5 linked regions of the Homo sapiens genome follow. The protein of the gene in region 1 purifies or fractionates together with the protein of each later gene. This does not show direct contact. Each region holds a gene or a part of one and is shown in the gene's direction. Other genes may lie near its edges.

The links.
Region 2: the proteins of RBM6 (region 1) and THOC1 purify together in Homo sapiens (affinity purification with mass spectrometry; one large-scale study listed by BioGRID and IntAct). This does not show direct contact.
Region 3: the proteins of RBM6 (region 1) and DDX42 purify together in Homo sapiens (affinity purification with mass spectrometry; one large-scale study listed by BioGRID and IntAct). This does not show direct contact.
Region 4: the proteins of RBM6 (region 1) and TCERG1 purify together in Homo sapiens (affinity purification with mass spectrometry; one large-scale study listed by BioGRID and IntAct). This does not show direct contact.
Region 5: the proteins of RBM6 (region 1) and DDX23 purify together in Homo sapiens (affinity purification with mass spectrometry; one large-scale study listed by BioGRID and IntAct). This does not show direct contact.

Annotation. Positions count from the first base shown.
Region 1 is NC_000003.12:49,966,520-49,973,023, forward strand, and holds part of RBM6 (RNA-binding protein 6), read left to right. Parts: intron 1-678; exon of another isoform or gene 679-950; coding exon 951-2,229; intron 2,230-5,539; coding exon 5,540-5,629; intron 5,630-6,504. UniProt on the Homo sapiens protein: Specifically binds poly(G) RNA homopolymers in vitro.
Region 2 is NC_000018.10:216,791-223,294, reverse strand, and holds part of THOC1 (THO complex subunit 1), read left to right. Parts: intron 1-4,325; coding exon 4,326-4,409; intron 4,410-6,504. UniProt on the Homo sapiens protein: Component of the THO subcomplex of the TREX complex which is thought to couple mRNA transcription, processing and nuclear export, and which specifically associates with spliced mRNA and not with unspliced pre-mRNA.
Region 3 is NC_000017.11:63,814,245-63,819,169, forward strand, and holds part of DDX42 (ATP-dependent RNA helicase DDX42), read left to right. Parts: intron 1-1,318; coding exon 1,319-1,429; intron 1,430-2,623; coding exon 2,624-2,722; intron 2,723-3,449; coding exon 3,450-4,154; 3' UTR 4,155-4,925. UniProt on the Homo sapiens protein: ATP-dependent RNA helicase that binds to partially double-stranded RNAs (dsRNAs) in order to unwind RNA secondary structures. Unwinding is promoted in the presence of single-strand binding proteins.
Region 4 is NC_000005.10:146,452,213-146,458,716, forward strand, and holds part of TCERG1 (transcription elongation regulator 1), read left to right. Parts: intron 1-2,305; exon of another isoform or gene 2,306-2,350; coding exon of another isoform or gene 2,351-2,352; intron 2,353-2,843; coding exon 2,844-3,069; intron 3,070-4,970; coding exon 4,971-5,123; intron 5,124-6,504. UniProt on the Homo sapiens protein: Transcription factor that binds RNA polymerase II and inhibits the elongation of transcripts from target promoters. Regulates transcription elongation in a TATA box-dependent manner.
Region 5 is NC_000012.12:48,828,080-48,834,037, reverse strand, and holds the end of DDX23 (probable ATP-dependent RNA helicase DDX23), read left to right. Parts: intron 1-518; coding exon 519-761; intron 762-1,464; coding exon 1,465-1,616; intron 1,617-1,851; coding exon 1,852-1,960; intron 1,961-2,721; coding exon 2,722-2,896; intron 2,897-3,345; coding exon 3,346-3,569; 3' UTR 3,570-4,282; downstream 4,283-5,958. UniProt on the Homo sapiens protein: Involved in pre-mRNA splicing and its phosphorylated form (by SRPK2) is required for spliceosomal B complex formation.

The DNA of each region.
Region 1 (6,504 bases):
TCTCTTGAGTTCTATAAATTGAGAATGTAAATTTAATACTATGTCTATTTTTAAAATGTATTTTATTGCCATGAAAAAGTAGCATGAGACATTGGAATATGGAATATCAGCTTCTTCATTTGGGTCATGGGGATCATGCTTGAAGACCTAATGCTCTCTCTAGGTCTATCTCAGCATTGAGCCCCTGGATGCTGTTGCGTGGCTTAGATGACTTATACATGCTTTGTGGCATGATTCATACTACCTTCTACCTTCTGTGATACCCTTGGGTAGTTATAATAGGACCCAGGTTAGAGTGCTTCTTGGTGGAGCCACTGTAGAACTGGGATTTAGATGCAGCCAGGGCTGATGCTCAGCTGGTGAACACTGGTGTGCTTGTTCCTACTGGTGATTTACAACCAGTGTTTCTTCTTTTTGGGCCTGCATCCATTTTGATTGGGTGGTGTCCATGCTGTATCTGTAATAAAATATTTTTGAATGTTACCGCTGGATGCAGCGTGAGAAAGATACCTCCTGAAACTTACTGTAAGAAATTTACAGTGCATTGATTTTTCTGATATATAGGAATCGTCATGTTGACCTTGGAATTCTTAAGTTCCCTGGCTGTAGGAAATGGAAATTTTTGTAGTATGTCACCATTGTTAGCTTATTTGGTATTGCGGATTTTCCCTGTTGCAGGACTGGGTGAAAGCTTTTTCTGCAGCAGTCATGTTGAAAACCTTGTGTTGACTTTCCTCGTGTTCTGAAATGGGAGCATAAAAGTTTACTCCGCCACTTCGTCTTAAAATAGCAAAACTTTGCTGTTTTCTGCAGATCTAGGACCTTGTTACAGAACTCTGCCAAAAAAAAAATGTTTACAGAAGAATGTGCTGTGATTAGAGAAGAATATGCTGGTGTGTAGATTTCAAACTCTCTGGACAATATGAATAACACTGTCTTTGTTTCTACAGTGGGAGCCAAGAAGAAAGGTTTGCTCCCGGGTGGAACAGGGATTATCCTCCTCCTCCCCTTAAGAGTCATGCTCAAGAGAGACACTCTGGCAACTTTCCTGGCAGAGATTCACTTCCCTTTGATTTCCAGGGGCATTCGGGGCCTCCTTTTGCAAATGTAGAGGAGCATTCTTTCAGCTATGGAGCTAGAGACGGACCGCATGGTGACTATCGAGGAGGGGAGGGACCTGGACATGATTTCAGGGGGGGAGATTTTTCGTCTTCTGATTTCCAGAGCAGAGATTCATCACAGTTGGACTTCAGGGGTAGGGACATACATTCTGGGGATTTTCGGGATAGAGAAGGACCACCTATGGACTATAGGGGTGGAGATGGTACTTCTATGGATTATAGAGGTAGGGAGGCACCTCATATGAACTACAGAGACAGGGATGCTCACGCTGTTGACTTCAGAGGTAGGGATGCTCCTCCATCTGACTTCAGGGGCCGGGGCACTTATGATTTAGATTTTAGAGGCCGGGATGGATCCCATGCAGATTTTAGGGGAAGGGATTTATCAGATTTGGATTTTAGGGCCAGAGAACAGTCCCGTTCTGATTTTAGGAATAGAGATGTATCTGATTTGGACTTTAGAGACAAAGACGGAACACAAGTAGACTTTAGAGGCCGAGGTTCAGGTACTACTGATCTAGACTTTAGGGACAGGGATACGCCACATTCAGATTTCAGAGGTAGACACCGATCTAGGACTGATCAGGATTTTAGGGGCAGAGAGATGGGATCTTGTATGGAATTTAAAGATAGGGAGATGCCCCCTGTGGATCCAAATATTTTGGATTACATTCAGCCCTCTACACAAGATAGAGAACATTCTGGTATGAATGTGAACAGGAGAGAAGAATCCACACATGACCATACGATAGAAAGGCCTGCTTTTGGCATTCAGAAGGGAGAATTTGAGCATTCAGAAACAAGAGAAGGAGAAACACAAGGTGTAGCCTTTGAACATGAGTCTCCAGCAGACTTTCAGAACAGCCAAAGTCCAGTTCAAGACCAAGATAAGTCACAGCTTTCTGGACGTGAAGAGCAGAGTTCAGATGCTGGTCTGTTTAAAGAAGAAGGCGGTCTGGACTTTCTTGGGCGGCAAGACACCGATTACAGAAGCATGGAGTACCGTGATGTGGATCATAGGCTGCCAGGAAGCCAGATGTTTGGCTATGGCCAGAGCAAGTCTTTTCCAGAGGGCAAAACTGCCCGAGATGCCCAACGGGACCTTCAGGTATGTTGATGGGGTGGATTGCTTTTTTTTTTTTTTTTTTTTTTTTTTTTGAGACGGAGTCTCGCTCTGTTGCCCAGCCTGGAGTGCAGTGGTGCGATCTCTGCTCATGCAAGCTCCGCCTCCTGGGTTCATGCCATTCTCCTGCCTCAGCCTCCTGAGTAGCTGGGACTGACTACAGGCGCCCACCACCACGCCTGGTGTGAGCCACCGCGCCCGGCCTGCTTTTTTTTTTTTTCTTTAAATAAGACTTTTGTGAAGGATGACATTTATTTATTTATTTATTTATTTATTTTTGAAACGGAGTCTTGCTCTGTCACCCAGGCTAGAGTGCAGTGACATAATCTCAGCTCACTGCAACCTCCGCCTCCCAGGGTCAAGCAATTTTCCTGCCTCAACCTCCTGAGTAGCAGGGATTGCAGGCATGTGCCACCATGCCCAGTTAATTTTTGTATTTTTAGTGCAGATGGGGTTTCACCATGTTGGCCAGGCTGGTCTCGAACTCCTGACCTCGTGATCCGCCCACCTCGGCCTCCCAAAGTGCTGGAATTACAGGCATGAGCCACCGTGCCTGGCCAGTTTTTTTTTTTTTTTTTCATTTTATTTTTATCTTTGCATAACCATTAGAAAGCAAAATTTGTATTCAGGAGTGGAATGTAGGAATGTAAATCTCTAGAGAAAAGGTCCTCAGCTCAGATCATATATATGTGTGTGTGTGTGTATATATATATATGAATATATATGTATATATATGAATATATATTTATATATATATATTTCTTTTTTCTTTTATTCTTTTCTTCCTGCTTCACTTTCCATTTGTGTATATATGTGTGTGTATATATGAAGGAACTATATATATATATATTTGAGACACGGTCTTGCTCTGTCACTCGGGCTGAAGTGCGGTGGTGTAATTATGGCTCCTTGCAGCCTTGACCTCCCAGGCTCAAGCGATCCTCCCACCTCAGCCTTCTGAGTAGCTGGAACTACAGATGTGCGCCAGCCACTATGCCTGGCTAGTTTTTTTTTTTTTCCTTTGAGAATGAGTCTTGCTCTGTCGCTCAGGCTGAAGTGCAGTTGTGCGATCTCAGCTCACTGCAACCTCTACCTCCTGGGTTCAAGGGGTTCCCCCGCCTCAGCCTTCCAGGAAGCTGGGACTACAGGTATATTTCACCATTCCTAGTTAGTTGTGTTTTTTTTTTTCTTTTTTGAGATGGAGCCTCACCGTGTTGCCTAGGCTGGAGTGCAGTGGCACGATCTTGGCTCACAGCAACCTCCGCCTCCCGTGTTCAAGCAGTCTTCCTGCCTCAGCCTCCTGAGTAGTTGGGACTGTAGTTGTGCACCACCAAATCTGACTAATTTTTGTATTTTTTGTAGAGATGAAGTTTAGGCATGTTACCTAGGCTGGGCTGGAACCCCTGATCTCAAATGATCCACCCTTCTCAGCTTCCCAAAGAGCTGGGATTTCAGGCATGCACCACCATGCCTGGCCAGCAATTTTTGTATTTTTTTGTAGACAGAAGGTTGCAACATATTTCCCAGGCTGGTTTCAAATTCCTGGGTTCAAGCAGTCCCCCCACCTTAGCTTCCCAAAGTGCTGGGATTACAGCAATGAGCCACTGCCCCTACCCTTTTGATGTGTGTTTATTCATTATTTTGTTTTATGATGCTGATTTACATGCCTTGGGATAATTTAGTTTGAAAGTATATGTCTTTGGGAGTTGACTCTTGCAACTCTCGCTTAGTTAGACCTGTGATTGTTTAGGGATCATTTTCTTATTTAAATTCATTGAGAGAATACTTAGGAGTCTCCCTAGTTGTGAAGAGCTGATATTAATGTTGCAACTATCCTCTTGCAGCTAACGTAATTAACTTAAATGTTAAACTTCTTGAATATATGATTTAAGCAAGGAGGGTTATATTTGTAATTTTACAATGAAGGTATTCTCTTTTAAAGTAGATTTGGCTGGGTACAGTGGCCTATGCTTGTAATTTCAGTGCTTTAGGAGGCTGAGGTGGGAGGATCACTTGAGGCCAGGAACTTGAGACCAGTGTGGTGCAACCTCAGGAGAGAATGTGAGGGTGGGGAAGAAAAATAAGGCCAGGCACAGTGGCTCATGCCTGTAATCCCAACACTTTGGGAGGCAAAGGTGGGCAGATCATTTGAGGTCAGGATTTCAAGACCAGCCTGGTCAACATGGTGAAACCCCATCTCTACTAAAAATAACAAAAATTAGGCCAGGCGTGGTGGTTCTTGCCTGTAATCCCAACACTTTGGGAAGCTGAGGCAGGTGGATCATTTGAGGTCGTGGGTTTGAGACCAGCCTGACCAACACGGAGAAACCCCATTTCTACTAAAAATACAAAATTAGCTGGGCGTAGTGATGCATGTGTGTAATCCCAGCTACTCGGGAGGCTGAGGCAGGAGAATCCCTTGAACCTGGGAGGCAGAGGTTGCGGGGAGGCAGAGGTTGCACTATTACACTCCAGCCTGGGCAGCAAGAGCGAAACTCCATCTGAAAAAAAAAAAAAAAACGAAAACCAAAACCAGCCAGGTGTGGAGGTGGGCGCCTGTAATCCCAACTACTTGGGAGGCTGAGGCAGGAGAATTGCTTGAACCTGGGGGGCGGAGGCTGCAGTGGGCTGAGATTGTGCCACTGCACTCCAGCCTGGGCGACAGAGCGACACTCTGTCTCAAAAAAAAAAAGACATTATCTAGTCATCTTCTCTCACCAGAGGTATGAAGTACTGCTAGTTTACAGCCCATTCTCCAGCTCTCAGACCAGGGAAATTTTTCTTTTTTTTTGAGACGGGGGTCTCGCTCTGTCACCCAGGCTGGAGTGCAGTGGCACAATCTTGGCTCACTGAAACCTCTGCCTCCCAGGTTCAAGTGATTCTTCCGCCTCAGCCTCCTGAGTAGCTGGGACCACAGGCGTGCACAGCACAGTTGGCTAATTTTTGTATTTTTAGTAGAGACGGTTTTACCATGTTGGCTAGGCTGAGAAAATTACTGTTTTGAGACTATGTTAGTGTGTCTTTCTGGTTATTAAAGTCTTACTCAGTCTTGTCTCTCGTAATGTTTTGCTTTACTTTGAAGACTCTTTCAGTGAGACTTGGTCTTAGCACATTTACATTCTTATGATTTGAAGTCACATTCTGGCACTCAGAACAATAGAGAAAATTGTAATTTTTTATATCTTCACGTGACATGTCATTATCATTTTTGATCCTGAGTGGCTAAATTTCATGTTGATTTGTGTTTTGTGCAGTAAAGTATATTTGTGAAATAATTTTTCATTCTCAATTTAAGGATCAAGATTATAGGACCGGCCCAAGTGAGGAGAAACCCAGCAGGCTTATTCGATTAAGTGGGGTACCTGAAGATGCCACAAAAGAAGAGGTAAGGCATGTCTTCTCTCCTGTTTCTCTGTGTCAATTAAAAATTAAAAAAACCTTTTAATTTGAAAAATTGTAGATTCACAAGAAGGTGCAAAGAAATGCACAGAGAAGTCTTGTGTATTTTTTTCCCATCTTCCCTCAGTGTTAATATTTTGCACAACTGTGGTATAGTATCTAAACCAGGAAATTGACCCTGGTATAATACATAAAGTTTATTCAGATTTCACCATTTATACATGCACTCACTGAGGTGAGGTTAAAAAAAATTATGACAAATGATTGCTCTCTTTAGACCTGATCACATCCTTTAGAGCATATTATTTCTGGAGTATGTACATAAGGATGCAGTTTATTTACAATAGTAAAAACTAGAAACTGCCTAACTGCCCTGTATCAAAGGATTGGCTGACTAAATTAAGTCTGAACTTATGGCAGTGCTCGCTCTGTGCCAGGCATTGTGTGATACTTACAAGCATTAGTTCATTTAATTATCACATATTTAATATAATCACTCTAAATATTAAGCATTACTGTATGTAATTGTTCTAGATACTGAGTGACACAGCAGTGTATATTATCAAGTCACTGCCTCCATGGATAATGAAAAAGCAAGCAAAAGGATTACACAATTTTAGTCAGCAAATAAATACTCTGAAGAAAACTAAAGTACAGGCGGGGCATGGTAGCTCGGCCTGTAACTCGGAGACAGAGTCTTGCTTTGTCGCCCAGGCTGGAGTGTGTGGCGCGACCTTGGTGCACTGCAACCTCCACCTCCCCAGTTCAAGCAGTTCTCCTGCCGCAGCCTCCCGAGTAGCTGGGACTACAGGCACACACCACCACGCCCAGCTAATTTTTGTACTTTTAGTAGAGACGGAG
Region 2 (6,504 bases), on another chromosome or scaffold:
CATAAAACTCCTCAAAGTGCTGATAAAATAATTTTAGAAATCACAAAAAAATAAAGATTCACAAAAGGAATCAAAACTACAAACAGAAGAGTAAGCCTATGAACTGATACGGTTCTAGGGCAGCAGTACTAATGATTGCCAGCTTTGAGAACCAGGGAACTTGGGTTTTAATAGTCACAAAAGTTCGTTGAACTTGCAAAATGGGCAAGTTTAATAGCAGTCTAGACATAGGTAAAGTAAGAATTAATGGGTTAATTAATGATTAAGAAATCACCCAGAAAGCAATACAGAAGGAGCAGAGTTAGAAACGATGACTTAATGATAGTTGAGGAGGTCCAGCAAACATCTGATGGCAGAAAGAAATAATAGAGAATGGGAAAGAGGCAATAATTGAGTTAATTATTAAGAATAGGCATGAATTCATAGGTTCAAGAAGTATAATACTTAAGGAGGATAAACCAAATAAATCCATATCTCTGTACATGATAATAAAGTCACCAGAGAGAAAAAACAGACAACCTACAAAGGAGCAAAGTTAAACTAACAGTTGACTTCAAGAACAACAAAAATCAGAAGACAGTGGGATGAGTGCTTGAAAATGTCTTTCACATTCTCTATTATTTCTTTCTGCCATTAGATGTTTGCTGGACCTCCTCAACTATCATTAACTCATCGTTTCCAACTCTTGCTCCTTCTGTATTGCTTTCTGGGTGATTTCTTAATCATTAATCCAGTAATTCTTACTTTCCCTATGTCCAGACTGCTGTTAAACCTGCTCGTTTTGTAAATTCAATGACTATATTTTCTCATTTCTAGAAGTATTACTTGCTTTTTCAACATTTCAACTAAAAAATTCTGTAACAAGTTAAACAGTTGTGGTTGAGTGATTGACTAAAACTATGAGAAATTATCAACAGTCCCCAGTAAAAAAGCTGTCTTAAGGAAACTGAACCCAGAAAGGAGTAAATTGCAGAAAGGATTACTGTGTAGACACTTTGGTAAACATGAAGAAATCTGAATAAATCTTATCAAGAATTCACTGTTATAAAATAGTAATAATTATTATTTAGGGTTATTTTAAAAGGTAAACTTGATAAAAGTGACATGTAAGACAAGAAGGGGTGGTCAGAATTAAAGAATGTTATGGTTTAAGTCAAACATGCTTGTAAAGTATGTGAAAGAAATGGAATATGTAATTTTTAAATAAATTGAGGGGTAAAAGTAAATACAGAAAATTTAAGCAAGTAAATTAGAAGGTAGGAGAGGAGGAAAAAAGCACAGAAAACACAACAGAAAGTACAAAACAGTATGGTTAAATTCAAATATAAATGGAAATGGACTTTCTGGCTCAAAGACAGAAATTGGTGTTATATTTTAAAGATCTATCGGCCAGGCGCGGTGGCTCATACCTGTAATCCCAGCACTTTGGGAGGCCAAGGCGGGCGGATCATGAGGTCAGGAGATAGAGACCATCGTGGCTAACACGGTGAAACCCCGTCTCTACTAAAAATACAAAAAATTAGCCAAGTGTGGTGGCAGGCGCCTGTAGTCTCAGCTACTTGGGAGGCTGAGGCAGGAGAATGGCGTGAACCTGGGAGGCGGAGCTTGCAGTGAGTCGAGATCGCACCACTGCACTCCAGCCTGGGCGACAGAGCGAGACTCCGTCTCAAAAAAAAAAAAAAAAAAAAGATCCATCTATATGTTTATAAGAAATATACCTTAAAAATAAAGATATGGAAAGGTTGAAACTGAAAGAACTTTTAAAAGACGTAATTTTTAAAAGGCATAGTTATATTGATATCAGGCAGAAAAGGCTTAAAAGCAGAAAGCATTATTAAAAATAAAGGCAATCATTGCATAAAGATAAAAGGAAAAAATAGAAATATACACATTTTAAACTTTATTTTCTAAGAATGTGTTCTCAAAAATTTGACAAAATTAGAATGAGAAGTTGACCCAGGGTCAGTTTTCACCATCCACCACCACCCAGAAAACCTACCATCTAGTAGGATTTTGACAGACCTTTCTCAGAATTTAATAAATTTGGTGGAAAAAACTTAGTGTAATACATTTAGAATTTAACAAAATAATTAACAGGCTTGGTCTTACAGAAACCACAAGTTTTTGTAAATTATGTGTGAATAGCAAAAGCAAAAATACTTACAACTCCTTTAAACACACTTCTAAATAACCCTTGAATCAAAGAAGTCATAATGGAAATTGGAAAATGTAGAGCTAAATAATAATGAAAACACTACATGTTCAGACTTTTGAGATCTAACTCAGTAGAACACAGAAGAGAAATGTATAGCCTTAAGTGTTTACACTTTCAAAAAGAATGAAATCTAAAAACCAAGCTAATAAGAGTCTGACACTGAGAGTCATTCAGAAGAAAAGTAAACTCATAGAAGTAGAAAGTAAAATAAGATTAGAAATCAGTAAAATAGACAACAAACAATAGAGAAGATAACAAAATCAAAAGAGAAGATCAATAAAAACAAAAACCAGGAAAAATAGATAAAATTCTAACATGATTGATTCCTGCCAAATCTGTGAGAGTGAATCAACCCAGTAGAAAAATGTACAAATGAATAGTCAGATTCAGAAGTAGAAACCTTAATAAACCTCTGAGAAGACGGGGAACTTCACTAGTAACTGGAAGTACAGTTAAAAACTACAGCAAGCAGTTTCCAGCTAAGAGATTCAGTAATTTAAAAATACCCAGATTTTATAAGAATTATGGATAAAAATAATTTGCCAGTGCTGCTGGTAGGAGTCTGATGGCACAGTCACTCTATCTGAATGTTAAAGATGTCTGTGCCCCACTAGTAGGTGTGTTGATCAGAATAGTGTTTTTAAAAACTAAGTTTGAGAATCATTGGTGGTTTGTAAAGTCAATTTAGTAATTTCAACTAGCATTTTTTAAATGAAATAGGAAATATACTTTTGTGAAGCATTAGCTTTACTTATATATATCTGTACATATACTTGCATATATGTGTGTACTGGGTTGCAGTGTAAAATGAATTTCTTATTGTGGGTTGCAGTGGAAGTTTGAAGGCCCAGTGCCTAAAGAAATCAGTTCATCTACAAGGAGACAGGTGCAAGAATGTTCATTTAACATTGTCAGAGCAAAGAGTGGGAAGACAAATATCTCTGTGTAGGACATGGATAACTTGGGGCATGTTCATAAAATGGAATATAGTATCTGTAGCATTAGAAAATGAATGGATATTGGGATAGTTTTCTTAAAAGAGCCCATTTTCCTAGTTTTACTCTAGAAGATGTCTTCTGATCCTGAGACCTCATTTCTTTGCTTGACCCTGTATCAAAATTTTATTTCTAAAAACAAATTCAAGAAAGATGCATTTTAAAAATCAACCATGCTACCATGGTAACAATTTAAATAAGAGCTAAAGGTTAAACCCTTGAAATCGTATTATGGTCTGATTATTAGTTTTGGTTTAATTCTGGTTTAAAGAAAAAATAATTCGTGGATAGGGACTTAATGTAAAAGTTTATTTGCTGGTAAAATTCAAATGCTATAAAATACCCTGGCTGCCCTCTTTGAATAGCAACATATTTATATATTATAGTGTGTAATTAAAGTATATAATATTATATGTAGTAAATACTATGTAATATTTAGTATTAGACTATCCCCTTTATTTATTGTCCTTTTTGAATTTAGTTTTGACGGTTTTACTTCCTTAAAAGTCTGGAGTTCCCACGTAATCAAAACTGTAACTAAAAGTATGGGGCCATTAGAATCTTGTCCTGCCACCACTTTATGAGTATTTATTATTAAGAGTATATGCCATCCTCACTGGTTATTTTGTACCGCTCAGGGAACACATGCCCACAATCTTGTCCTGCCACCACTTTATGAGTATTTATTATTAAGAGTATATGCCATCCTCACTGGTTATTTTGTACCGCTCAGGGAACACATGCCCACAATCTTGTCCTGCCACCACTTTATGAGTATTTATTATTAAGAGTATATGCCATCCTCACTGGTTATTTTGTACCGCTCAGGGAACACATGCCCACAATCTTGTCCTGCCACCACTTTATGAGTATTTATTATTAAGAGTATATGCCATCCTCACTGGTTATTTTGTACCGCTCAGGGAACACATGCCCACAATCTTGTCCTGCCACCACTTTATGAGTATTTATTATTAAGAGTATATGCCATCCTCACTGGTTATTTTTGTACTGCTCAGGGAACACATGCCCACAATCTTGTCCTGCCACCACTTCATGAGTATTTATTATTAAGAATATATGCCATCCTCACTGGTTATTTTTGTACCGCTCAGGGAACACATGCCCACTTTGGAGGAATTCTTTGAAGAAGCCATTGAACAGGCAGACCCTGAAAATATGGTGGAAAATGAATATAAGTAAGTATGCTCCTCATTAGCTCCTTTTAATTTTCTTCAATTTGTTTCTTCCTTAGGAATTGTGTGTATACTAGAAAGCCTCTTAAGAGAGGCAGTAGATAGAATAGTGCTTTTTCTCTTAGGTGAGTTTATGTTCCAAGTTCTTGTTAGTACACATCCTGATTTCAAGGATTATTCCTGTTAACTAAGCATGACTTGGAATCACCCTTGTTTCAAAATATAAGAAAAAAAAAACTCCCCCTGATCCCCATTTCTCTCCAACTATTAGTTCTGTTCTCTCTACCCTTCAAAGCACAGTATCTCACAGCAGCTGTTAACCTATCCTGTTCCCCTTAATGTTTTCTTCTCTTGGCGTCCATGAGAATCCAAATCCATGGTTCTTCTGTTTGCCCTTTGCCCTCGTTGCCCACTCCACCTCACATTCCATTTCAGCCTCCTCATCCTCTGCCTAACTCAAATTTTGGAGTAACATCAGGAATTGGTCTTAGCCTCTTTATCTAGAACCTTCTGGGTGACACCGCAGTCTCATGGCTTTAAATAGGAATTGAAGAGTAGTGGTTTAAAGGCAAGAGGCCTCTGGTCAGAATGCATAGGTTCGATTCCCTCTACCACTTACTTACTAGGCAACTAAGGCTAATTTAATTATTAAACCGCCAGTTCCCTTTCCTCATCTGTTAAATAGTAACAGTACCCATTTCACAGGGTTATTCTGAGGATTAAATAAGACAGTGCACTTTGAACCCTACAGGGCATGTGGTTAGCACTCAGTATTTGTGACTAGTGTGACCCTGTGACCAGAGTTGTTAATTACTGTGACCTCTTAACTAATCTCTCTAGTTGTGGTCAGTGCTCCATGCATCAGCCAGTGATCTTTAAAATAATTGTCCAAGTCTAATCTGCTTAAAATCTCCCAGTGAGTGCCTATTCCAAACTCCTTCCCAGGGCCTAAAAGACCTCCTTGGTCTGGCTCATACTCTCCTGTGTGGCCATGCCTCCCCTCTGCTTTAACCACAGCAGGCCTCTTGGTCCTGTCTTTCCCTTTCCTGTCAGGACCTTCACACTTTACTGTCTCACTTGCTTGAACCACTTTTTCCCCAAGGTTGCCGTGGCTTAAAGTCCCCCTGGCTGGGAAGCTCTTCCCCTCCCTGGTCTCCTCTTTTGCATTCTCGTGGTTTTTATTTCACGGCACTTACCACTATCCAAATGAGAAGGTGGCACTTACCACTTTCTCATTTCTCAAGTTTTCCTCATCCTTATGAAATTGTCTTATACCTTGTGTGTTTATCACTAGCAATGCCTGCCTTACTGTGCCTCAGGTACTCTCCACAGCTACTGAGTGCCTGGCTCAAAAGTGTTTGTCGATTGAAAGAATATTAATTTATCACTGTTACATAAGACTAGGTGGACTCATTCCTAAAGTGATAGTTCAAATTATTATCTCCAAAGAGGGTTTTGTGGAGAATAAGAAAAATGATGTGTATAATTGACAGTGAATTTTGAAAATGCCTAAAATAATCAAATTGTCTAAACAGATATGTCAGAGAGGAAGGCTCTTAACTGTTTAGGCAAAGCCTCACAGCAGGTGTTAACTTGGGAAGAGTCCCCAGTGTCTATGGGTAGTTTTTGTTAAGTCTTCAGTGGTACCTGCACATCCTAAAGGTAACATATGCTTATTTATAAGAGGTGACCAAATAAACCAAATTGCTATTCTTAGGGGAGGAAGAGACTTCCAATCCAAAACTCTTAAATGGAATAAATTTGTGGTTTGGTTTCTTCCGCAGCATTGCATATTTCTGACGCATTATCTTTAGAATTTCTCTGCAGTTTGTTTCTCACCTGATGGTATACCACCCTGATCATTGTTATACTTCATTAGGGAACAGTTCATGGATTCCAAATAGCTAGATGGATGATTCCTGTTGTATACGTACTGCATCCAGCCAGTACTGCACACACTTGTTGACTTGTTAAAATTAAACAAAATGAACGGAAACTTTGAAAATGTGTTTGCTGCATATGAGCCTGCCTCTTCAGGCATTGTTGGTTCCTGTGATTAGTTACATGTGCATCTATTGGTTTGTTATTATCAGTGGAC
Region 3 (4,925 bases), on another chromosome or scaffold:
ATTCTAACAAATCAAACCTGGAGTCATCTGAATCCATGCTGTCCCCAAATTACAAATGGGTTCGGAACACTTTCTGAGAGCAGAAACTGTTAAGAGTTTGTCAAATGCCTAGGCCAGCTCACACAACTGGTACAACCCAGCTGCAATGTGGCAGTGCCCAAGTTTCTGGTCCTAGGAGTAAAGGACCTGCACTGCAGGAGAGAAGAGAATAATGTTTCCTCCCCTGCTCCTGAGCACAGAGAGCTAGTCCTAAATAAACTTTTAAAACAGGACACATTTTGACTTTGGCATTTTCTTCCATTTCTTTTTGTACCTCAGGCTTTCTGTGCTCAGGACTTTGTCCAAGCCTGCTGCCCTACCTCTCAAGCACTTTATTTTGCTGGTAATATGTGATTGTCAGATAAAACTTTAACCTTCCCAGAGACATTTGCTTTTTTTTTTTTTTTTTTTTTTTCTTTTTTCTGAGATGGAGTCACACTCTATCACCCAGGCTGGAGTGCAGTGGCGCAGTCTCAGCTCACTGCAACCTCTGCGTCTCCGGTTCAAACAGTTCTCCTGCCTCAGCCTCCCAAGCAGCTGGGATTAGAGGCATGTGCCACCATGCCTGGCTAATTTTTGTATTTTTAGTAGGGACGGGGTTTCACCATGTTGGTCAGGCTGGTCTTGACTCCTGGCCTCAAGTGATCCGCCCACCTCGGCCTCCAGAGTGCTGGGATTCATAGGCGTGAGCCACCGCCCTGCATTCTTAAGAGAATGTGAGTAAATATGTTGAGTGGCAATGGTCAAGTTCAATGAAAACTTTTACGCTCTGCGGGTAAATAAAATTTTCAGTTGTGTGGCTACCATCCTTTCTGGGAGTCTGTCCCTATAGTCAGTTCTGATAAGCCTCACTTCACATAGCATTTTTCCTTTGCTTCTGAACATACCAGTTGTTTAAGTTCCAAATGTTTACGTCCAATAATACATGGTTTGAGAAATAAAATATAAGCTCATTTTCCTCAAGGAAGTTAGAAGTAGCCAAAGTTACTCCTCTGGGTTTGAAGCTTACCTGAACAACTTCCCTTCCAGGAGAGCCTTGAGGGAGGGAGCACTGTAGGAAGCCTTAGATAAGGATCTCAGCCACTTTTCAAATTTGGTGGATTATGCTACCAAAGAGAAACCAATCTGTGGTTCCTGTGAAAATTCCTCCCTTAGCGTAGTGCTGGCTGAAAATTAAGCAAAAGTTCCCCCTTCCCACTTAATTTCCTCTTTGTCCTCGTTCTCTTCTTCTGTTCTTTTCTCCCTCCCTTGACTTAACCTTGAATTTTGTTCAATGCAGAATGCCTGGTTTCGGAAATCTCGATTCAAAGGAGGGAAAGGAAAAAAGCTGAACATTGGTGGAGGAGGCCTAGGCTACAGGGAGCGGCCTGGCCTGGGCTCTGAGAACATGGTGAGTCTAGACTACTACAGTAGTGCCTTTATAGTTGGTCTCATGTCCTGAAAGTCATTAGGAATATTCTCATCTACCCAGGAAAGCCTCAGTGAGTTTAAAGCCCTGTCTAGAAGGGAATTTGTATTTAATCTGATTTGAGTCAATGCAGTGCTCATTCTTATGGTAACTTTCTATTGAAGAAGCATCTTTGTGTACTTGGTTGACTAGGCTTGCTCAGGAAATTATTCTAGATTAGCAGTGATCTCACACTGTGGTCCCTGGACCAGCAGCACATGCAAACTCATCCCCAACCCCAGACCTTGTGAATCAGAAACTCTGGAGTTGGGGCCCAGCAGTCTGGTTTTATAAGCCCTTCAACACTGGCCTAAAGCCTGCTGCTAGGTAAATGTTGCCAAAGGGTCACTGTAAAGTCTAGCCATATCTTGTCATTAAACTCAGGAACGGATCAGGAATTTCCAAGTCGGGAGCTAGTTTTTCTCACAAACCAGGTAACAAATGTACCCTTTTGGTGGCCTTTCTTAACTGCCTGTTTTCTGTCACCTTGATTCCAAGCCAGGGAAGAAAGCTGCCAGTATACTTTTCTGGAGCATTAAACTTGGCATCTTTGTAATTACATACTCTGTTCCCACATTATAATAATAATGATGATGATGCATAATAATAGGTAATATTTATTGAGCACTTTATATGTGCCAGGACCATTCCAAGCAATCAGATGTTTTGGCTCAGTTAATCTTCAAAATAACTGAATGGAAGTTAGTACAGATAACAATGCTGAGGCACCTAAGGTTACAGTGACAAGTGTTCAAGCCGAAATTCAGACCCTTCATGGTCTTGATTCAGGGCCTGAGCAGTCACACAATATGCTATTCAGGGCCTTTTCATCTTTAACGTAATTTTTACTTAATTAATTGGAAGTGTTTATGTAAATACATGATCAACTTTGGGCATAATCTGATTGCATTTCTGTTTAATAGGGTTAATTTCCAGAAATAGAATTTCTGGGTTGAGGGCATAAGCATTTTTAAATGATTGTCACTGTGTCTTTTCTCACAAAGCAGTAGCAGCTTTCTAAAAGTATCCAGTTCCTTTGTAGCTCCCACTTCAAGGGTTTTCATAATGAGGCCTAGTCTATAGCAGTGAGCTTTCCTGCTTATTTTTTCATTCTCATAGATGTGTTTATTTTTTTAGGATCGAGGAAATAACAATGTAATGAGCAATTATGAGGCCTACAAGCCTTCCACAGGAGCTATGGGAGATCGACTAACGGCAATGAAAGCAGCTTTCCAGGTCTGAAATAAGCATTTCATTAAAAGCACTTTCAGCAGTAACTCTTGGGCAGTGACAGAGGGGCTTAGTTTTCCTGGTTGTAGCTGGGCGCCTAGGCTTGATGCTAGATTTAGGGTCTTCACGCTGCTTGGATTTTGAATATAAACCTAACAGTAGCTTAGTTGGAAATGCAAGTTGATCTAGAGAACCCCTTGTGCTGGTCTACTTTGAGTCACACTTGGGGCCTGGGATTGTTGTCCTGCAGCAGGGTGTGTGTTCCCTCCCTTCCCAACAGCCTGAAGTGTTGCCCACCTCCCAGGCACCCACCTCCAACTCACTTCTGAAGCAAAATTTACTGATAGTCACACTAAGGTGAATCGATAGAATGAGTTCAAGGCAGGTTTTGCTGTCAAACTTAAATTGCAGTATGAAAATTTTTTTTAAGTTTTCAGAACTTTTTGGTTTTGAATGCAGATAAATGTGCTAAATACATAGATGCTTTATTCTAGCCAATCAGGCTATAAAAGTACATTTCAGAACACTGGGGGTCCATCTCTCCACAGAGATCCACAAGTTTTCCTTTATAGCACAAGAACAAAAGGGACCATACTGTGGGGCCATCAGGACACTAAACTCACAGTGCCAGGATAGCACAGAGTTTCTGTAAACCTCATCATTTGCCAAGTTGTATATTCAAGTTTCTTGAACTTGCTATCTTACCTACTCCTGATGTCTCTTTCTCTTTCAGTCACAGTACAAGAGTCACTTTGTTGCAGCCAGTTTAAGTAATCAGAAGGCTGGAAGTTCTGCTGCTGGGGCAAGTGGGTGGACTAGTGCAGGGAGCTTGAATTCTGTTCCAACTAACTCAGCACAACAGGGCCATAACAGTCCTGACAGCCCCGTCACCAGTGCCGCCAAGGGCATCCCAGGCTTTGGCAATACTGGCAACATCAGTGGTGCCCCTGTGACCTACCCGTCTGCCGGAGCCCAAGGAGTCAACAACACAGCTTCAGGGAATAACAGCCGAGAAGGGACTGGGGGCAGCAACGGGAAAAGAGAGAGATATACTGAGAACCGGGGCAGCAGCCGTCACAGTCACGGAGAGACTGGCAATCGGCATAGCGATAGTCCACGTCACGGAGATGGTGGTCGCCATGGAGATGGATACCGCCATCCAGAAAGCAGCAGCCGTCATACTGATGGCCATCGGCACGGGGAGAACAGACATGGAGGAAGCGCAGGCCGGCATGGGGAGAACCGGGGTGCAAATGATGGTCGGAATGGGGAAAGCAGGAAAGAAGCTTTTAATCGTGAGAGCAAGATGGAGCCCAAGATGGAACCCAAAGTGGACAGCAGCAAGATGGACAAGGTGGACAGCAAGACAGATAAGACAGCTGACGGCTTTGCTGTCCCAGAGCCGCCTAAACGCAAGAAAAGTCGATGGGACAGTTAGAGGGGATGTGCTAAAGCGTGAAATCAGTTGTCCTTAATTTTTAGAAAGATTTTGGTAACTAGGTGTCTCAGGGCTGGGTTGGGGTCCAAAGTGTAAGGACCCCCTGCCCTTAGTGGAGAGCTGGAGCTTGGAGACATTACCCCTTCATCAGAAGGAATTTTCGGATGTTTTCTTGGGAAGCTGTTTTGGTCCTTGGAAGCAGTGAGAGCTGGGAAGCTTCTTTTGGCTCTAGGTGAGTTGTCATGTGGGTAAGTTGAGGTTATCTTGGGATAAAGGGTCTTCTAGGGCACAAAACTCACTCTAGGTTTATATTGTATGTAGCTTATATTTTTTACTAAGGTGTCACCTTATAAGCATCTATAAATTGACTTCTTTTTCTTAGTTGTATGGCCAGGCAGTCCCCATTTTAGGAGTTGGCTTCTGCAAATTCAATCCATTGAGCTAACTGTTGGGGAGCAATTTGGTAGTTGTAGACATTTGCAGGGAAGGGAGATGTCTGATTCTAAATGGGAGTTGATGCTCAGGTCCCCAGCCAGGTTTGCATCCAGCCCTGAGACATGTAGGAAACACCTTTCAGACCCAGGCTCTGAAGATTCCCAGAAGCCACAAGGATTGAAGGGAAAAGGTGATCCTGGTAACTGTTCCAGGATTGCTCCAGGTTTGAGATGGTATTGCTAAATTTAAAATTAAACAAGAAACCCAACAACAGCTTTTAAAGTGTCTTCTATCTCATTGTATTTTTTTTAACTTGCCCCAATGATAGAAAAGTCT
Region 4 (6,504 bases), on another chromosome or scaffold:
AGCCTGGTAACGAGAGACTATAAGAATGATTATTTTCAAATATATAAAGAATATAATTGTTAATTCCTCTCTTGAGGACAGAAATGTAGGTTTTTTATGTATAATGTAGATGTATAGTAGCTACTGGGAATACCATGATAGGTACTCAGTAAATGGGTGGAATTGTAAAAATAATTTTTTTAAGATCCTGCATACGCTACTTGTAAGGTAGTTTGGGTACTGTATCACCTAGGTATTCAGTGGTTCATGCAACAAATACTAATACTAATATTTATTGAGCCCTACTATGTACAGATCTATGTGCTAGGGATACAAGAGTGAACACAATTCCTACTCTGAAGGAGCATTTGCCTGTGTTTGAATCCTCTCTTTATTTTCTTTATTTATTTATTATTGAGACAGAGTTTTGCTCTATTGCCCAGGCTGGAGTGCAGTGGCACAATCTCGGCTCACTGCAACCTCCACTTCCCAGGCTCAAGCAATTCTTCTGCTTCCGCCTCCCAAGTAGCTGAGATTACAGGCGTGCACCACCATGCCCGGCTAATTTTTTTGTATTTTTAGTAGAGATGGGGTTTCACCATGTTGTCCAGGTTGATGTTGAACTCCTGACTTCAAATGATCTGCCTGCCTTGGCCACCAAAGTGCTGGGATTACAGGCGCGAGCCACCGTGGGCCACCTGAATCCTGGCTTTAGTACTGAACCAGTTGTGTGGCCTTGGACAAGTGACTTCTTTGCTTTAGTTCTTTATCTATAAACTGAGATTAATAGTATCCATCTCATTGGGTTGTTTTGATGATTAAAAGACTTAATTTTTGAAAAGAGCTTAGAGCAAGCACTGCCTGGCTCATAGTAAGCACTTTTAGGAGTTAATAATTCTCTTTACAAAAGCACTTGGGGGAAGAGATAGATAATACTATCTCATGTGATATTACTTATTTGCTTAAATGCTGTGGAGAAAATACATTAGGGTGTTGAGAGTGAGGGGTGGTGGGGCAGTGTGCCCTACAGGGAAAGGCTTTCCCTTTAGGTAGAGACTACTAATGATCTGCCAAGTGACCCCCCTGCCCCCTTTAAAAACTTTGGAAGTAATTTCAAATTTACAAAATGTCGCAAAAATAAAGCTAGGGTGTTATTCAATGTTAATATTTTACCTCTTCTGCTTTACTATTTGCGTGCACACGTGCATCCTCTTTGTTATTCTGAACTGTGAGGGTAAGGTATACCTATGGCTTTTTACCCTTCAATACTTCAGTATTTTCTAAGAATAGAGATATTATTTTACTTAACTACAGCCTAATTATCAACTTCATAAATTTGTAATGATATAATACTTTAATCTGTTGTGCATATTCCAGTGTTGTCAGTTGATCTGGCAATGCCCTGTATGGCATTTCCTCCTGTTAGTACAGAATCCAATCTAGAGTTAAAATTGTGTTGTTATTGGCCGAGCGTGGTGGCTCACGCATGTAATCCCAGTACTTTGGGAGGCTGAGGTGTGCAGATCGCCTGAGGTCAGGAGTTCAAGACCAGCCTTGCCAACATGGCAAAACCCTGTCTCTAAAAAAAAAAAAAAAAATTGTGTTGTTATGACTCTTTAACCTTTTTTAATCTGGAGCATTTCCACAACATTTCTTTGTCTTTTATGGATAACATTGACATATCTGAAGAATACACATCCCCCTTTTAATAGAACATTCCTTCCGGCCAGGCGCTGTGGCTCATGCCTATAATCCTAGCACTTTGGGAGGCCGAGGAGGGCAGATCATGCGGTCAGGAGATCAAGACCATTGCCAACATGGTGAAACCCCATCTCTACTCAAATACAAAAAAAAAAAAAAAAAAAAAAAATTAGCCGGGCATGGTGGCGCATGCCTGTAGTCCCAGCTACTTGGGAGAAGAATCGCCTGAACCCGGGAGGCGGAGGTTGCAGTGAGCCGAGATCATGCCACTGTACTCCAGCCTGGCAAGAGAGTGAGACTTGGTCTCAAAAAAAAAAAAGAAAAGAAAAGAAAGAACATTCCTTCCTTATTCTGAGTTTGTCTGATACTTTCCTCGTTGTTAGATTGAGGTTATACATTTTTGGTCGGAATAGGTGATGTCGTGTCTCTCTCAGTCACACATTATCTATCTGTCCTTCTTAGATGATAATTAGTTTTGATCACGGGGTCAAGGTATTGCCTAATTTCCTTATTACGTAGATTATGTAGAGTGTTTTTTTTTTCATCCTTTCTTGCAACTTTAAGCAGCATGTGGGTAAATACTTTAAGACCATCAGATAACCCTCTTGTCTAAATTTTTGCCTAGACTCGGCATCCATTGATCATTCATCCAAAACTAGATCATCCATTGATGTAAGTTTTTTTTTTTGTTTTTTTGGTTGTTTGTTTGTTTGTTTGTTTTTTGAGATGGAGCCTTGCTCTGTTGCCCAGGCAGGAGTGCAGTGGCTTGATCTTGGCTCATTGCAACCTCTGCCTTGCGGGTTCAAGTGATTCTCCTGCCTCAGCCTCCCCAATAGCAGGACTTACAGGCGTGCGCCTCCATACCTGGCTGATTTTTGTATTTTTAGTAGAGATGGGGTTTCACCATGTTGTCGAGGTTGGTCTCAAACTCCTGACCTCAGGTGATCCACCTGCCTTGACCTCCCAAAGTGCTGGGATTACAGATGTGAGCCACTGCACCCGGCCCATTGATGTAGTTTTTATCATGACGGTTGCAAAATGATGACTTTCCAACTCCACTTAGACTTAAGAACCTTTTAAATTTGATGGATGTAATTAGAGATCAGTAGCTACATTTTTGTAATTTTAAGAAAGAAAAATTTATTCCTTGCTTTCCCATGCAGGATGGCCCAACAGCAGGCCTTGAGGTTCCGAGGTCCGGCTCCCCCACCAAATGCAGTGATGCGAGGCCCACCACCTCTGATGCGACCTCCTCCACCTTTTGGTATGATGCGAGGCCCTCCTCCACCACCACGGCCGCCCTTTGGACGTCCTCCTTTTGATCCTAATATGCCGCCAATGCCTCCTCCAGGAGGGATACCTCCACCTATGGGCCCTCCACACCTCCAGGTAAAGAATGTAGAGGTTGCCATTTCTTTGTTGGCATCATTATCAATATTATATATGGGTTTTGAGTTAAAAACTTACATTCTTAAATAGTTTCAGTTTATAGGAAAATGGGAGCTAAAGAGAAGATCCATATATTAATATGTTTCTTCTGAATTAGTGGTAGCAGTAATTACTATGGAAATTCAGAATAGGACTTTAGATGGTGATAGAGAAGTATGTGTATAAAACCAGGATTCAATAGTTTTTACCTACCTTTAGCTCTGTGAATTGGCTTTAGTAATGCATCTTCTTTATGGGAAATGAAGTTTGAAATTTTAAGATATTTTTGAGTGGAGAAAATTTATTTTCAATGATATATGTTGCCAGCAAGTCTAAAAATATATGTGTATATGTTCCTGAGTAAGTCTTCCTCCTGGAAATGGTGCCTAGGATAGAATCTGGAAAGTGACAGCAAACACATTTTATAAGCACATAGTTGAATTTTTTTTCTCCCCTGGGGGGAAAATAGGGTTATCTTACTCTTTTTGAAAACGATTTATTATGGGATTTCTTTAAATAAAAACATTTATGGTATTTTAACCTGGGGCATAGATCCTTCTCCAGTGTATCCAGACTTACTGTCTGAGGTGAGGTCATGAAGGTATGAACTCTCAAATGTCTCATTTTGGGATTGTATTCTTTTTGAGTATGTATCTATGTTTTCTTAGTTTAGTCTGTATAATTCTGAAACCAAATAAATATAGTGGTATCATCTGCCTTCCATTAGCTTAGACAGTGAAGAATGAATTATACTAAAAATGGAAGAAGACAATGATGTGCCATTTAAGTGATGTTAATTCTGTTTAGGTAGGGTTGTGGTTATGGAAGAGACAGGTTTTAATACTTTGCTTAATAATTTTATGGCCTTCCTAATAACGAATAGCCTCTCCTTCCTTTAAACACACTGTTAAATGGTTTTATATTTGCTTCAAGGTTAGAATAAGAAATAGTTTTTTTAACTTATTCTGGTATAATCTTTAACGTGAATTTGTTCTAATTTGTGACTTTAAGAGTTAAACCTACTTTGGAGTATTATAAAATGTAATGGACTAATGTAACCCTCTCATTGAAATATATCAAATGTTGTGCTAAGATACTTTCTAATGTTGTCATGCCTTTCTTGGTCTTGGATAATTGTTTGGCTTTATATTAAGTCCAAGTGATTTTCAGCCAAGGGCTCATGAAACGTATTTGGGATAGATATTTTATATAACCTAGATCTGGTGTGCTGACGCTTGAAAGATACTCAACTGAATCCAGCAAAGATTGGAGTATGGGAAAGACATTTTTAGGAAAATAAAGTACAACTTCACACTATTAGCATAGTTTGAGTTCCATTATCCAGATTAAGCTGCTTTTGATAATTGAATTTTAATGTTACTTACAGCTTATAGAGGAAATCTTTTAAATCCCTGCTCAAAATGTTTTTATAATGTCATAATGTCAAATTTTTAATTTTGAAACTCATTTTTATGCACAGTGAAAACTTTTTCTTGAAGGATTCTTCAAGAAGCTGTGGAGACAGTGATGTGCCTGGTATTAAAACAGGATATAAAAATCAATTTTTTAAAAAAAGTAATCCAGCGCCCTGTGTGTGAAAATCAGATCATGTAGAAAGGAGAAAGCAGAATTCACTGACAGTGTTATAACCCAGAGTTGACCACTATTAGTAGTTTGATGTGTTTCTTTCTAGTTTGTTTGGTAATTTTTGTTGCAGACATTTTGCTTCTATGACAGGTGAATGTGTTTGAATAGACTATAAAACTAGTTTCTCTTACAGTGTTTTACTTTTGAATAGAATTCAGTAATAATTTGGAGGAAAAGTAATTAAAGTGACCATTACTGTTTTTGTGAATTAACAGAGACCACCTTTCATGCCTCCTCCCATGAGTTCCATGCCTCCTCCTCCGGGTATGATGTTTCCACCAGGAATGCCTCCTGTGACTGCTCCTGGTACTCCAGCACTACCTCCTACGGAGGAGATATGGGTTGAAAATAAAACTCCAGATGGGAAGGTAAATAATAAAATATATTTAAGTTGTCATTTGTTGACAGAGGAGTAAAACTTAAAGAGTTCTGGCAGATTGAGGTCAGTGATACTGTCATTTAAGAATGAGCCCTGGGTGAGCAGGGAATGGGGTAAGACTTCAGGAGAAGCTGACTGGATTTAGTTTTTGTGCAGCAGATATAAGGTTGCCTGGAGTGCTAACACACATTTACCTGTGATTCTGGAAGCTTCTGGTCACATTGGTACCATCTGCCTAGCACATACCAAATTCCAGGCTCCTAGAAGGAAAGCAGGTGTTCAGCGTAGCTGGTTTAGGCACATCGAGCCATTCTTATCAGTAAGGGAATGTCAACCCTCCTGAAATCCAAGTTCTTGGACTCCAGATAAGGGTCAGCAGGGCTTTCTACAGATAGCTGTCTCAGGTCTGTTATGTTGAATTTCTGCATAAAACATAACATGGGTTTTCCTTTGTGCTCATTATAGAAAATTGGGCTGTGGGGTGGAATTACCTATTTTTGTTGTTTTGTTTTTGTTTTTTGAGATGGAAGTTTCACCCTGTCGCCCAGGCTAGAGAGCAGTAGTGCAATGTTGGTTCACTGCAACCTCTGCCTCCTGGATTCAAGCAATTCTCCTGCCTCAGCCTCCTGAGTAGCTGGAGTTACAGGCACCTGCCATCATGCTCGGCTAATTTTTGTATTTTTAATAGAGACAGGGTTTCACCATGTTGGCCAGGCTGGTCTCGAACTCTTGACCTCAGGTAATCCCACCCGCCTTGGCCTCCCATAGTGCTGGGATTACAGGCGTGAGCCACTGTGCCTGGCCCTAAGTTATTTTATTTTATTTTATTTTTTATTTTTTTATTTTTGAGATGGAGTCTCGTGCTGTCACCCAGCCTGGAGTGCAGTGGTGCGATCTTTGGTTCACTGCAACCTCCGCCTCCCGGGTTCAAGTGATTCTCCTTCCTCAGCCTCCCAAGTAGCTGGGATTACAGGCGCCTGCCATCACGTCTAGCTAAATTTTTGTATTTTTAGTAGAGACAGGGTTTTACCATGTTGGCCAGGTTGGTCTCAAACTCCTGACCTCAGGTGATCTGCTCACTTCAGCCTCCCAAAGTGCTGGGATTACAGGTGTGAGCCACCGCGCCCAGCTATTTTTTATTTTTGAGATGGAGTCTCCCTCTGTCACCCAGGCTGGAGTGCAGTGGTATGATCTCGGCGCACTGCAGCCTCCACTTCCTGGGTTCAAGTGATTGTTTTGCCTCAGCCTCCCGAGTAGCTGGGATTACAGATGCCGGCCACCACACCTGGCTAATTTTTTTATATTTTTAGTAGAGATGGGGTTTCACCATTTTGGCCAGGCTGGTTGGTCTTGAACTCCTGACTTTAAGT
Region 5 (5,958 bases), on another chromosome or scaffold:
AATGGGCAGAGCTGAGACTCATATCCATAGCCTGTGCTTTTAGTTACTCTTTACTCTGCCAGACCAAATCTTTGACTTTGTGCATTGCCTTCATCTCAGGAAAGTGGAGGAGAGCTCTTTATGAGAAGTCTGCTGTAGAAATTTAGTCTTTTTACAATTTTTTAAAAAAATTTAGTCTTTATACAACCCCCTTCATAGTACCCCTTAGTCTCTCCCATCTAAGAAGTTCCTTCTTCAGGATCTGAAATGATTTGCCAAAAAAAAAAAAGTTTCTACTGATTTTGCCTCCTCTGTCTAATCCTTGCACCTTACTCAGAGACCTCATTCATTCCTGAGAAAATCCAGGCAACAAGTGATTTCATGCCAGTTTGCAGGAGCCTTTACTGCTAAACATAACCAGAGGTTGGGGTCCAAGTTCCTCAGCATTGGAGGTCTGTCACCCAAGTGGGTGGATAGTTCACAGGAAAGAAAAGAAGGGGCACCTGCTGGGCTATAAATGATTATACTGTACTCCTCAGATTGTGATTGCTACCCCTGGGCGTTTGATTGATGTGCTGGAGAACCGCTACCTGGTGCTGAGCCGCTGTACCTATGTGGTTCTGGATGAGGCAGATAGGATGATTGACATGGGCTTTGAGCCAGATGTCCAGAAGATCCTGGAGCACATGCCTGTCAGCAACCAGAAGCCAGACACGGATGAGGCTGAGGACCCTGAGAAGATGCTGGCCAACTTTGAGTCGGGAAAACATAAGTACCGCCAAGTAAGGCTGCTTCCCTGGGCTGGGAAAAGTTGGACAGGCCAAGGCGGGTGGATCACTTGAGCTCAGGAGTTTGAGACCAGCCTGGGCAACATGGCGAAACTCCGTCTCTACAAAAATTTAAAAAATTAGCTGGGCATTGGTGGTGCACACCTGTGGTGCCAGCCACTCAGGAGGCTGAGGTGGGAGGACCTCTTAAGCCTGGGAGGCAGTGGTCGCAGTGAGCTGAGGTCGTGCCACTACTCCATTCCATCCTGGGCAACAGAGTGAGGCCCTGTCTCAAAAAAAAAGAAAAGTTGTACAAGGTTGCCAACCTCCTTTTGGGCCTTTCTTGCCTTAGGTGGGCTCAGAGTACATGTTTCTAGAATGAAGTGTGCCTAGGTACAGTCCTCTGACAGTCCTAAGGGTGGAGCCATTTAGCTTAGCCCTGGAAAAACGATTCCAAAGACTCATGCTGCTACCGGGACCACAGGTGCTAGCAAATGCTCTCAATCCTTCCTGTCATCATAAGATGGAAAGTGCCTTGATGAGCAGGTACTCAGGAAGGATGGGAATTCAGAGGACACTATTTTCTAAGGTGGTGGCTATCAAAGCCTATACTGTGGCCCATTTTAGATTCTTTAGTCTGGGCTGACCTGCCTTCGGTGACAGTGGGATATATGATTATTCCTGCCTGGGTGCAGGGCTGAGCCTCCTGTTTTCGTAGACAGTCATGTTCACGGCCACCATGCCCCCAGCGGTGGAGCGTCTGGCCAGGAGCTATCTTCGGCGACCTGCTGTGGTGTACATTGGCTCCGCAGGCAAGCCCCATGAGCGTGTGGAACAGAAGGTCTTCCTCATGTCAGAGTCAGAAAAGAGGTATGAGGGCAGCTGAGCCAGGGGAAACAGGGTGGAGAATAAAATGGCTCTGAGAACTTTTTTAGTGCAGGTGCAGGGCAGGGCAATTGCTCTGCTGTGTTGAAGAGCTGCTGTTTTCTTGGGCAGAATGTCATGGGCATTAAAGACCCTGAAAGTAGTGTTCATAGATGAGGGTTGGGCATTTCACTTGGAGTGGGAGGTATTATGCATCTTGTTTTTCTCCTCTTCCTTCCAGGAAAAAGCTGCTGGCAATCTTGGAGCAAGGCTTTGACCCACCCATCATTATTTTTGTCAACCAGAAGAAGGGCTGCGACGTGTTGGCCAAATCCCTGGAGAAGATGGGGGTGTGTCTGGCAGGGGAGAACAAAGTCTAGCCTCTGTGGCACTGCTTTCTGAATCTAGCAGGGCCCCCTAGGCTCTTCCTTTCAAGTCTCACCCTTTCTTTAGCCTGTCCAGCAATCAACAAGTTAGGACCAGGGTGAAGGGTGGTTTGAGGGAATAAAGAGAATGGAATCAATTGCTGGGACCCCCTGTCTGCTGCAGTAATGCCAGCCAAAGCTGCCTTGGGTCTTCATCCTGGTGAGGTGGAGCCAGGGAAAGGTTTGAGACCCATATCCTGGCAGTCTGAGGATGTAGAAAAGAGTAGGTGAAAACTGCTTAGGTACGTTGAGAGGAGGTGATATGGTCAGAAGGGAGCTGATAATCAGTGTCCTTTACTCCTGTCACTGGTGCTTGAGGGGAGGGGTGTGTCCCTGTCACTCAGCTCTCCAACTTCCTTAAACTTCTTGATCCCTGCTTTCTACCCTGATCTCGCCCCTAATTCTCTTTGAGGACTTTTCATCTGTCTGGCTCCACCGCTCTCCCAGCTGTTTTGCCTTTGACCTTACTCTGTGTGTCCCTGCCACACCACACCTTTTTCTCTCATCCCTCTCTTCAGCTCACTTGTTCTCTCCTTCTTTCACTGCAATCATTCTCTTGTTTCCTTTCCTTTCTCGTACTCTGCTGCTCTCTCCAACCCTCCCTTCATCTGTGTCCCATTCCTCTGAACTCCTGTGTCTCTCCTTGATTGCATTGCTCACTCTTCACTTCACCATTCTTCCAACAGTACAATGCTTGCACACTGCACGGTGGAAAAGGCCAGGAGCAGCGAGAGTTTGCGTTGTCCAACCTCAAGGCTGGGGCCAAGGATATTTTGGTGGCTACAGATGTGGCTGGTCGTGGTATTGACATCCAAGATGTGTCTATGGTTGTCAACTATGATATGGCCAAAAATATTGAAGGTAAGTTCCAGGGAAAGCAGCTTCAATCCAGGGTGAAGTCAGATTCCTTATGGTGTCCCACTGGAAGTCAGGGTGCTGTCCATGGAAGGCTGTTACTGCCTCCCTCAGTTCCAAGTCTGGGATTGCTTGCTCCCATGAGAAGCACTCCTGTCCTTTATCTTACCTGGGTTTGTTGTCCCAGCAGCTGGGATGACACTTGTGTCCTCAGGAGTGTGAAGAATGAAGCTAGGCAGCTGTGGGTCTTAGTGTGGTAGGGACCACAGTCAGTAGGAGGACAGGGGAGATGGGCACCTGGAGAGGGCACTGTGGGCGCCTCAGGTTCAGGCAGCATGTGCTGTATTCCTGCCTTTGGAGATGGGGTGGGAAGGATGCCTCTAGAAGTGGAGGCATCAGACACGGCTCCCCAGGGCATCTGGGCTATGCTGAGTGACGTTCTTCCCATTCCCCAGATTACATCCACCGCATTGGCCGCACGGGACGAGCAGGCAAGAGTGGGGTGGCCATCACCTTCCTCACAAAAGAGGACTCTGCTGTGTTCTACGAGCTGAAGCAAGCTATCCTGGAAAGCCCAGTGTCTTCCTGTCCCCCCGAACTAGCCAACCACCCAGATGCCCAGCATAAGCCAGGCACCATCCTCACCAAGAAGCGCCGGGAAGAGACCATCTTTGCCTGACACAGCACTCTTCCTGTGGGCTGAGGGCATCTCCAAAGCTGCCTGATGCCTGTTTTTCAGAACCCTCACATCCCTCTTTCCAGGTCCTCACTCTTGGGATATGGGGGCTTAGGAAAACAATCCAACTCCCTAGCCCAGACCCTCAGGTCAGGAGGCCTGCGTGTGGGGCTGCAAAAGGAGAGGACGACGCTGTCGGAGGCAGGGAGAGCAAATTACCACAGCTTCTTGGCCCAGTTCTGCCCTTCTTTGCTTTGGGATTGCACTGGGCCATCAGCTCATGCCAGGCTATGGGGGCAGCCAGTTGGCATTGCTCCCCAGACTGAACAGAAACCTGGCCGCCGGATGGGACCTCCTTTGGCACAGACTTGACTGTGTAACTGCATAAACTGCAGTAGCATCATTGCCCTAGATGCCCCAGGAGACCTGGCACCATGAGGATTACAGACAGTGGAATCTTACTGTCATCTGGACAGCTGTTTTCCTGTTTGGATGGTAAAGGAAGTTGAGAGTCTTTAGACCTGTGCACAGCCCCGCACCAAGGGGTGCTGTATGCTCTAGGCATCCCCTCCCCCAGGGGATTTTCTAAGTAGATGGGGGGACACGGTGAACTGGCTGTGTCCATCTTTGTCACTGAGTGAAATCTCTGTTTTCTATTCTCTGAGAAGATAAGTTTGTATGTTCTGAGAATAAATACATGAATATTAAGACTGTTAGATCTAGTTCTAGTTAAACTTCCCAGCTTCTCCCTGGCAGGAGGGACACCACTGGGTGCGGGGTGGGTTGGCTTGGAAAATGAGAGACAGCCACATTAAGAGAAGAGTAGAGGGGTCTCTGCTGATAGTCTTGAGTCTGTAGGTGGACTTGAGAGGAGATGCAGAAGCCACGCAGGACTGTAATGCATCTTCCGCCCCTGCTCTAGCCTCGCGTAATGTGTGGCCCTGGCCTGGACACCCTCTAGGGAGCTTTAGGCAAAGGTGAGAAAGGAAAGCAGTTGTGAAATTTTGGCAGGTGAGGCAGTTGGAACCACTCTGCCGCTGTGTGCCCAACGCCTGGTCTCGGGAGCTTTGCTTGTGGCTCCCTAGTTGGACCCATTGCTCCTGGGAGGGGATGGTGCAGAACGGGTGGACCCAGCTGTATCAGGCTGTGGTGAGAGGAACGCAGGGCTGCAGTCCTCCCCCCATACCCCTCTTGTTCACATGCTCTTCTTACCCCACAGAAAGAGTTGGCCTAGTACATAGAGTTCAAGTTGTAGCTGCTTCTAGGGCCTTTTTGGCCTGGCGCAAGGATACTGTAAAGCCGTGACCAAGCGTCTTCCCCACATCCCAGGACAAGCCCTTCCGTGCTGCTGGATGTCTCCCTCTTGACACCTGGGCATGAGGAGTGGGGATGCCTGGGAGTGGAGTGCCTCCCCAGCTCTGCCTTTGTCCCCTTCCCGCTGGACAGATCCTCTGAGAGAAGGGCGGCCCAAACACATCTTTCCCTCCACCAGACTTTGGGCCGCATCACAGACAGAACAGAAGCCGGAGGGACTGTGCATGATGTTTATTAGTGATGACAGTGAGGTGAGGCAGGGGCTTGTGGAGCATGCTCTGTAGGTCACACACTAGAGCCATAAGGCAAGAGTAGCCGGGGAGACAGGTCCTCTGTGCCCTGTCTCTCCCCATCTAACCCTAACCTAACAAGCGGCAGCTATGAGTCAGGGAACAAAGTCTGGAGCCCGGTTCTCCAAAGATGTATGAGGGACAAGAACAGAAATGACAGGATGCAGGGCAAAAGAATGAGAAAGGCAAGGAGGCCCCCCTAAGTTCTCTGCTACACATGCCCTCCTTCCCCAAACCCCCATCCAGGTTGGCTCCCATCTGCCACTTGGCTTCACCATGCTCCTGGTCCCTGGTCCTGTCACATGTTAAGAAGCTTCCTGGCAGGGTGAGGAGAGCCCTTCCCTCCAAGAGCTTCAGCTGTGAGCTCTCTCTGGCCCGAGCGTGGCCAGCCTGCTGCTCCAGTCTTGGATGTGGCTGCCACACCCCAGCAAACAGATGGGTGTGCCACCCTGGGGGGGCTTTGATTGTCTCATTTCTAATGTATGGCAGTGAGGTGACTGGAGGCCCTGGATGCCAAAGCAGTCCCTTGACTGTCAGGACTTGTGCCTGCTCAGGGACCTTGTTTCTTCCTCATGCCATGGTGCCCACACCCCACCCTTTTGTCACTTTAATGGGGCATCCCTTCCCTGAGTCTGGTGGGAAGGACCCTGCTAAGGGGATCCTGGCCTGAGGGCACTGCCCAGTGGGGCAGCTTCCTGTGTGGGAGGAGAGGAAGGTGCCAGGGGTGCAGAACACACAGCTAGTACCTGGAATGGGAGCCTAGTAGGGGTCACTGCCCAGGAGGTGAG